Regions from separate parts of the Homo sapiens genome. Here region 2 is linked to region 1. Evidence: fine-mapped expression QTL. A gene starts in region 1. The other region holds a variant in brackets. All regions are shown on one strand. Distances are from middle to middle. Region 1 holds the start of STOX2 (storkhead box 2). Region 2 has its middle 74 kb from the start of STOX2.

Region 1 (4,341 bases):
TCCTCCAACAGAAAGTCAAGATCCCTTCTACCCCAGGGCCTTTGCACAGACTGTTCCCCCTTTCTGTAACACCATCTCCCCCACTCTTTGCTTGAGTGGCTCCTCATGCTGTAGGTCTCAGCTCAACTGTCATTTCTTAGAGAGATTATTGTTCTTCATAGAACTTAGCACAATTTCTGCATTTATTTGCCTACTGTTTCTCTTCCATACTAGACGGTTTGCTGCAGGGTCATGTGTGGTGTTCTGTTTGCCCAGCACCCATCCCAGGGCTTGCGTATTCTAGACAGTCAGCCATTGTTTGCTGAATGAATGACTATCACAGTTGCCACAGCAGTCACCATTAGCTTTAAGTCATAGCTATTATAATCATTCATATAACCACCTTTGGCTCTTGGGAGGTACTGAGTAATTGTTGAATTGAGATATCTAAATGTCAGTTCTCCTACATTCATTAATACAACTTGTTATTACCTTATGGTCCTTTACACCAGCGGCCCCCAACCTTTTTCACACTGGGGACCAGTTTCGTGGAAGACAGTTGTTCCTTGGACTGGGGTGGGGGTAGGGTTGGAGAGCAGAAGGTTTTGGGATGATTTGAGTGCATTACATTTACTGTGCACTTTATTTCTTTTATTATTACATTGTAATATATAATGAAATAAATATACACTCACCATAATGTGGAATCAGTGGGAGCCCTGAGCTTGTTTTCCTGCAACTAGAGAGTCCCATCTGGAGGTGATGGGAGACAGTGATAGATCATCAGGCATTAGATTCTCATAAGGAGCACGCAACCCAGATCCCTCCAAGCATGGTTCACAATAGGGTTCGTGCTCCTGTGAGAATCTAATGCAGCCACTGATCTGACAGGAGGCTGAACTCAGGAGGTAATGCCAGTAAGCAATGGAGAGCTGTTGTAAATACAGATGAAGCTTCACCACCCACCTCCTGCTGTGCTGCCTGGTTGCTAATGGGCCGAGGACTAGAAGCTGCACGGGGTCCGTAAATATCTGTGGGGTAGGTAAATATCCAAGCAGTCCATGGCCTGGGAATTGGGGATCCCTGCTTTATACAGCTAGCTTTCTATAACTTCTAAAGCTGTAATCTTTCTGTTCTTAGCAGTTCTCTTACAGGAAAGAAGACATTGAACTAAAAGTGCCTTCTATAACTTCTAAAGCTGTAATCTTTCTGTTCTTAGCAGTTCTCTTACAGGAAAGAAGACATTGAACTAGAAGTGCCTTTCCCAATTAAAAATAAAAACCACAGAACATTAGTGAATTGGTTGACAGTAATACATTTTGATTATGTAAATATAAATTCCATAGGCTACTTAGTGATTATTTATTTATTTACCCTGGGTATCCCAAGAGGTAGTACAGTGGCCACAGGTTATAGAGGGCGGTCTTGAGATCTGAATGAGGAGAGCTCTAATTCTAGATTTTATAATGCCTGTGGCTTAACGCCATCCTGCTCTGCCTGGTTCTTCAAGATAGTTGCTACCCCCCTCAAATAATTCAAGCCTTGGAATAGCACAGATTGTGTTAGAACTTCCTGAATCCTAACCAGCTAGAATCCACTGGCTTGTTTTTGCGATATCAGCCTGTTAGAAGCATATCCCTATAAAGATTTAATATCCCTGTCTCTGCATCTTGGCACCTGTGAATATGAAACAACAGCATAAATATGATTTTGAACGTTGCATTGTCACAGATGAAAAAATGCACCAACATGTCAAATGCAGCGCTGAAAAAGGAAATCGGGCTTATTTTTGTCGTTGTTTACTGTACCAAAGCATTTTTGAAAACCCAAATCGAGGAGATAACCGTTTTTGAATGAACGGCAGTGCAAAGCGTGGTCGGGGTTAGCAGCAACGTGGCTGGGCGCCTTTAACTCGGCGTGACCTCCGGGTCCCAGGCCCGCGTCCCGGGCCCAGCGCCCAGGCCCGGGCGGCGCATTGGCCCCTCCTCCCCTCGCGCGCCGCGCGCATTGTTGTCCTTTAGCGATTGGTTGTTGGACCAGAAACAGCTGTGCAGAGCCGTGCCATCTAAAGAGCTGTGGACCTGAATGCAGCGTAGCGGGCTGGCGGTGACTTACACCGGGACTCCAGAGGGAGAGAGGAAGCGCTGCAGGCCACTTGCATTGCGTCTTCCAGGCTGCGTGGACCCGGCGCCCCGGCGTGTGCGGTTGTGGGGGAGCTCGCCGTGGCCTCCCCTCCCTCTGGCTTTAGCTTCCTTTGGGGTTGGCGCAGGTGGGCCAGGCAGCGCACCGCAGATCTCCCCGTTCCCACGAAGGCTGGCTCGCTGTCTCTCTCCGAGCGGGAGGGACCATCCTAAAAATATGTAAATATCCAAGCGCTGGCTCCAGGCTGGGGCAGCTGCCAAGGTCCCCGCGCCGCCGCCGGGTGTTTTACATGAAAATGAGAAGCCTGATGGGAACCGCGTTCTAACTTAAGGCAGCCTGGTGATTAGCATGAGACTGGGCGGCTGTCCTGCTTCCTGCCCTTCAATAGCCGTTCCGCGCGCTCGCGCCGGAGCAGCGCTGCCGCCGCGCGGGGGTCGATCGCAGGCTCGGCGTCCTTGGCAGCCATGGCTCCGGCGCCGCCTCGGCCAGTAAGTAGGAGCATGCATGTGTAGGGGGCACATGCGTGTCGGCGCACCCACCCAGCCATCCACCCGCGCGCACGCACAGCGCCCGGAGCCTCGGCAAGGGGAAGATTGACGAGGCGCTGCAGTCGCGGGGACGACGCGGGCTCTTCCTGGATTCCGCAGGAGCCCGCCCGCCGCAGCTGCTGTCTGCAGAGCCTGCTCGGATCCTGTGCACACGCGCCCCCCGCTCGAGCCTCTGTGATGAAGACTGTCTCCCGGGGACTGCAGCGGAGGCAGAGCCAGCCAGCGCCGGGGACTGCGGGCCGTGCGGCTGATAGGCCCGCGGGGACACGACTCGGACACTGTCATCCCCACGCCTCGCGCTGAGCTGCCCGGCGCGGAGGGTCTGCCGCCGCCCCTCCGGCCTCCCGCACGCCCGATCCCGGGTCAGCCCCGGAGGCCTCGGCTGCCTCATTTGTTTGGGTCTTTTGTGCCGTGGCTCCCAGTTGGCCAAGCACTCCTGCGCTGAATCGGGCCATTGTCTGCGCTCCCATTGCCTTCACGCTGCAAGTCTCGGCGCCCCCACCCCGCCCGCCCCCTCCCCGCCTCCTCCCGGCCGGGGAGCCTCCTAACGTGCCTTTCCCCCCAGGAATCTGGAAGCTATAAGCCGGGCGGATTGCAAATGAAGTGTAATGCATTGTGGGACGTGTGTAAAATCGGAGCCTTCGCCGTGGGGGTGTGGGGGGGCGTGGGGAGGGCCGGACCCGCCGCTGGCGGTGTAGACGCCGACGAGGAGGGGCTGGGAAAATGTGCGCAGAGTCCGCCCGGGTCGTGCCCGCCGTAGACGGATGAAGGAGCGCGCTGCGCCCCGGCGCTGAGGCCCCGAGGATCGGGGCGGCAGGTCGCCCTCCCCACCATGAAGAAGACCCGGAGCACAACCTTGCGGCGAGCCTGGCCTAGCTCGGATTTCTCGGACCGGGCCTCGGACCGCATGAGGTCCCGCAGCGAGAAGGACTACCGCCTGCACAAGCGTTTCCCCGCGGCCTTCGCGCCCCAGGCTTCGCGGGGCTACATGACATCAGGTTGGTTGGTGACCGCGTTTCTGCCCCCGGGCCGGGGCCGCGGGACGTGCTCGGTACGCCGCGGCCCGGGTGCTTGGAGGAGAGGACGGGCAGTGATGGATGCGATAAGTTATGGGGAAAGCAGGAAAAAATTAGCTCCCATCCACCATTTTGTACCTCCCAAGATCCACAGCAGGCCCTCTCAATATGGGGTTGGAGAGCTATTAGTTAGGTAAAACGAGGGAGGGGGGACGAGCCGGGCGTTTTGGCTGCAGGGAGATAAATGACTGCAAGCCCCGGCGCTGCAGCCTCCTCGAGCTTTGTGGAGGATCCTGCGCCCAGGGTTGCCTGCAGTGCCAGGCTTGCTGGCTGCTGCATTGTGGCCGGTTATCTGAGTGGGTATTTCCAGCAGCCCCCTGTTCTCCAAAAGGAACAGGTTCCATGCGCAGCTCTGGATGGGCTGAGTCAGGGGAGAGTCCTGCAGACATCCCAGGCTGGTCTGATTTGCACGCAGAGAACTGTGTTGGAGCTTACTGAACGCGTTCTGTGGGGGTAATGGTGTGGATGCGGATTGAATGCTCACATGATTCTGTGTGGATTTAACATATGTTGCTTTGAATTAGGCTGTATGGAAAGAATGGAGGCTGTATCATGTGTTTGCATGTCAGACAGGAGGGACAAACAAAACGGTAAAT
Region 2 (4,393 bases), 74 kb before region 1:
TTGCCAAATTCAAAGTGGAGTATTGTGATGTACCTTGAGCCTGATGGAGTTTTTTTCTGTATTTAACCAAGATCACACTTTAAAACTAGACAGAGAATCATGGGTACCTTGTAAAAAACCTACCACGGACGCCAGACCTGGTGCTGCAGACACATGTGTTTTGTCAGGTAGATTTAAGTTGTAACAGGCAGAAGAAGGAAAGCAGTTTGGCTTGGGTGCCAACCGGGAGATTAGCAATTTGCTGATTTCAGCTGTTTTATGGCAACATTTATAAAGTTGACTAATTTTCTCCACAGATATTTTGCCAATTAGCATTAAGAAACAAGAGAATTTAGAAATAAACTTTTGCTCTTTTCCTATCCAAAGAAAGTGGTCTTTTGTTTTTAAAAATCTATCATCTTTTTCTTTGATGAGAGAAATTATATTTGAGGCATTTAGTTAATCTGCTATTCTTTGAAACATACACATTCTTATTTTGGAAAAATTAAAAACATTCATCTCTACATTCAACATTCTTTAAGACTGGTGGGATTGTGAGTTGCAGTAGTAGCAGAAAGAAAAGACAGAACGTGGAAAAAAGCCGTTTCCTTTCTCTTTTTGTTGCAACTTCTAGTCCCTTGTCATTTGTTTGTCTTTGTCACACTTGCAGGCCTTTCCAACCCCCAGAATCTAGGGTACTGTTATACATAACTAGAAGACTTCTATGCGCCAGATTATTTAATGCTCCTCATTCCCTTTGCATTTGGTGGCACGTCTCCCTCATGTCTTTGTATTAAACTGTCAGTCACCAGCATAGGTAACACAGTACACTTTAAATTTCTTGTGAAAATCAGCCCTTGGTCACATTGTCTTAGCCATGGGCCAAGGCCTTCAATTCCAGCCCCACCTCAGGAGTTCACAGATAGTGAGTCAATACGTTCCCTGTAATTTTAAGCCAGCTCGACTTGCGGTTTCTGTTACTTGCAACCAGATGCACCTAATGGATCCTGATTGTAATGAACTTTATAATTAGATTTTCTGTTATGTGTTGGAAATGAAACAGAGTAATTCTCCTCTCCTGGCCAAGGAACTTACACTCCCAAAGAGACACGAAGAAAAGTGAACACTTACTGAGCATCTGCTGTGTGTGCTGGGTGTTTCAGAGACATTTCCTCATGGAATGCTGAAGATGGCCATTACTGGGCCTGCTCCCTCTTCTTGCAGGTATGAGTGATGGGGTAGAATCGGCGAATCCTTTAGATCTTTACTGCATTGTTGCTGAAGTTATGCTGATTGTGACTATTTCTGGGCTGTCAATGGATTTTTATGTGGCCCTGAGCACAGTGTCTCAGGGAGGTAGGGCTATTTCCAGTGTCTGAGCAGAACTAATTTCACATCCCCCCCAACAAGGTATCTAGGGTCACCTGGTGCGTTGTTACTTGCTTTTCTGCTAACCTGCTTTCCTTGCACACAGTAGAAAATTGGGCTAGGAGTAACATACTGTTCTAACTATAATTAAAAGAATTCCCCCTCATTGGCCAAGTGCAAGCACATGGGGTTTTTACACTCTCAGTCGACTGAATTACATTCTAGGTGCACTGAGAGTTTGCTACTATGGGTGTTATCTTGTTTTCTGAATTCCACTGGGTGATAAAATGCAACTACAGCTGTGTCCTTCTGTGGGAAGGAGGGAGTCCAGTGAAGTCCTCTGTGCCAGGGCTGGGAGAGATGGTCATGAGGGTTCTTATCCTTTGACCTTAGCCATGACCCCAGGCTGGCTTTACCTTTGACCCTGCCCTTTTGATGTGCCCAGGGCTGGTCTGGCCTGGCTAGTAGTCACTCCTTGTGTGGCAGTTAGCTGAGGGTATATCTGAGGGTGATATAGGGTATATCTGTTGGTTGAAATTAGCTGGGATGAAAACATACCTTTCATCATAGGCCAATGGCTCATTGAAAAGAAATTAGTCATGAACTTCACTGTCAGCTGAAAAGTAGTCATTAAGGGCCCTCCTCCAACAATAGGACACTTGTTCCGGTTTCAGGGTCACCTGATCCACACCAATAGGGGAAGACTGGGGAAGAATGCTGTGCAAAACGTTTTCAGAGGTTGTAACAGGCAGGTCTGCATTTTTAGAATTTTTTTTTTTTTTTTGGCTAGCTGTATATGATTGAACAGTTTTCAGTTTCAAAGTTGCAGGCTTTGGTGTTTAGATCCTTCCTAGGCTGGTGGTAGAAGAATCCTGGGATTCTGGGTTAGTCCTCGGCGGAGATGGCCAAGCACTACATGGGACCGAACTCCGGGCCTGAGCAGCTGGCTTGGAGGGTGTTGGCTTTTCTCCTTCCTGGTGGGTGTGGAGGCGTGAGGGGGGATGGTGGGGGGATGGAAGATTTCAGTGAGAGTTGTTTATTGCTAAAGGTCTACAGGAGAGAAGACGATTTGAAAGGCAGGATACAGTAGGTTAAAAAGGTTGTCCTGTACAGAACACACCCACAGAAATTGCACACATGTAAGGAAAATTGTGGCAGGAAAGAAGCTTGGCTCTTTTGCCTTTCTTCATTTCCGCCCCCAAGTTTGCCTTGAACTTGGAATCTTACGTTATAAACGTTGCCAAATTGCAGCTCCAATCAGGAAACAGATGGTTAGGCAGTA[C/T]CAGAAAACACAAATAATTGTGGGGACCATGAACATTAGTTCATGAACATTAGAAAACCCTGATGGAAAGTTTAGAACTATGTACATTTTTTTTTTTTTTGGTGAATATCAGACTTAAATAATTGCGAAAAGAATGGTCTAGAAATATTTTGCTAGGTATTAGAATTTTGTGGTACAGTAAACAATTAATCAACTTCTAGTTTATAAAAAATCTGCTGTGCTGTATAATTCTTAAAAATAAATTTAGTCAGTGATGGATGCGCTGAGGGCCCTGACCACCACGAAGCAATAGATCAGGTAGCAAAATGCACTTGTACCCCACGGATATAGACAAAAAACACTAAAAGTAAATACATAGATAAATAAATTTTGTTAAGCTTATCTGCCTTAGTTTCTGTCTAGGTGGCTGTAAACACGCCCTGGTCTCATTTCCGAGGCTTTGTACTTCCTCTTTTCTCTCCTGGGACAGCTCTGCCCAATTTTTCCTGTTTCCAGGCTTTAGTCCCCTTCTCGGCCCCTCCCTGAAGCTTCTTCTGGTGAATTCTGCAGTTCATTCATTTCTTCTTCTTCTTCTTTTTTTTTTTTTTTTTGAGACAGAGTTTCACTCTTGTTGCCTAGGCTGGAGTGCAATGGAGTGATCTTGGCTCACTGCAACCTCTGCCTGCTAGGTTCAAGTGATTCTCCTGCCTCAGCCTCCTGAGTAGCTGGGATTACAAGTGCCCGTCACCATGCCCGGCTAATTTTTGTATTTTTGGTAGAGACAGGGTTTCACCATGTTGGCCAGGCTGGTCTCGAACTCCTGATCTCAGGTGGTCCGCCCACCATGGCCTTCCAAAGTGCTGGGATTATAGGCAGGAGCCACCACACCTGGCCCTGGAGCTCATTCATTTCTATTTGTTTCTGAAAGCAGGGACTCTAAATATTACTAACCCCATTTTGGCTCCTAGTTGTATGCTTATCTCTGTTAGAGAAGACTCTTGAAATTATCTAAGGAATGTAATACTTCATCCAGTTTTTTAAAACTCTAGAAAGCTAGATTCTGCAGCTTCTTAGTAGCCTATAACCGACTCTTTTTTTTTTTTTTTTTTTTTTGAGACGGAGTCTTGCTCTGTCACCCAGGCTGGAATGCAGTGGCATGATCTCGGCTCACTGCAATCTCTGCCTCCTGGGTTCAAGCGATTCTCCTGCCTCAGCCTCCCAAGTAACTGGGATTACAGGTGCCTGCCACCATGCCCGGCTAATTTTTGTATTTTTAGTAGAGACAGGTTTTACCATGTTGGCCAGGCTGGTCTTGAACTCCTGACCTCAAGTGATCCGCCTGCCTTGGCCTCCCAAAGTGCTGGGATTAGAGGCGTGAGCCACCACACCCAGCCTATAACTGGCTCTTACCCTTACTGTCGTTAGGCTCTTCCTCTGACTCTCGGCTCAATTAAAAAGATGAGGTAAACTTTATACACAATCCCTTCATGTATATTTAAGGAACAGTGATGTCTCCTTTTAACTTCACCTCTGCAGACCAAACACTACAGATTCCGTCAAAACCTGTTACAGCATGCTGATGTTTTTCAATCTCCAATAGGAGTATTAGTCAGCTATTAAGAATATTTTGCTAATTTGTTACCAAATATGGATTATCCATGGCGATGGTCTACCTGAAATTTCCCCTGTGAAATGGACATGGTTCAGTGAGTTTGAACATTGATACACTCAGTTCTTAATCGTCTTTCTAAATTCAGTGACAGTTCTTTTTTTATTGCCTAATAA

What was found. PIP is the estimated chance that this variant, and not a neighbour inherited with it, causes the effect. A credible set is the group of variants that fine-mapping cannot tell apart.
Region 2: its variant is the best candidate, but not a certain one, in a credible set for the expression of STOX2 in monocytes after R848 (Quach 2016, PIP 0.86).

What each region holds. Positions count from the first base shown.
Region 1 is chr4:183,903,290-183,907,630 of GRCh38, forward strand. STOX2 (storkhead box 2) reads left to right here and starts at 2,018. Exons shown (of 4, transcript NM_020225.3): 1 at 2,018-3,667. The coding sequence starts at 3,502. RefSeq lists enhancers at 1,561-2,270, 2,271-2,978.
Region 2 is chr4:183,828,788-183,833,180 of GRCh38, forward strand. It overlaps a transcript of STOX2 not described here. Among named protein-coding and RNA genes, the nearest start is that of STOX2, 74 kb to the right of the region's middle. The variant C/T (reference allele first, on the strand shown) is at 2,630.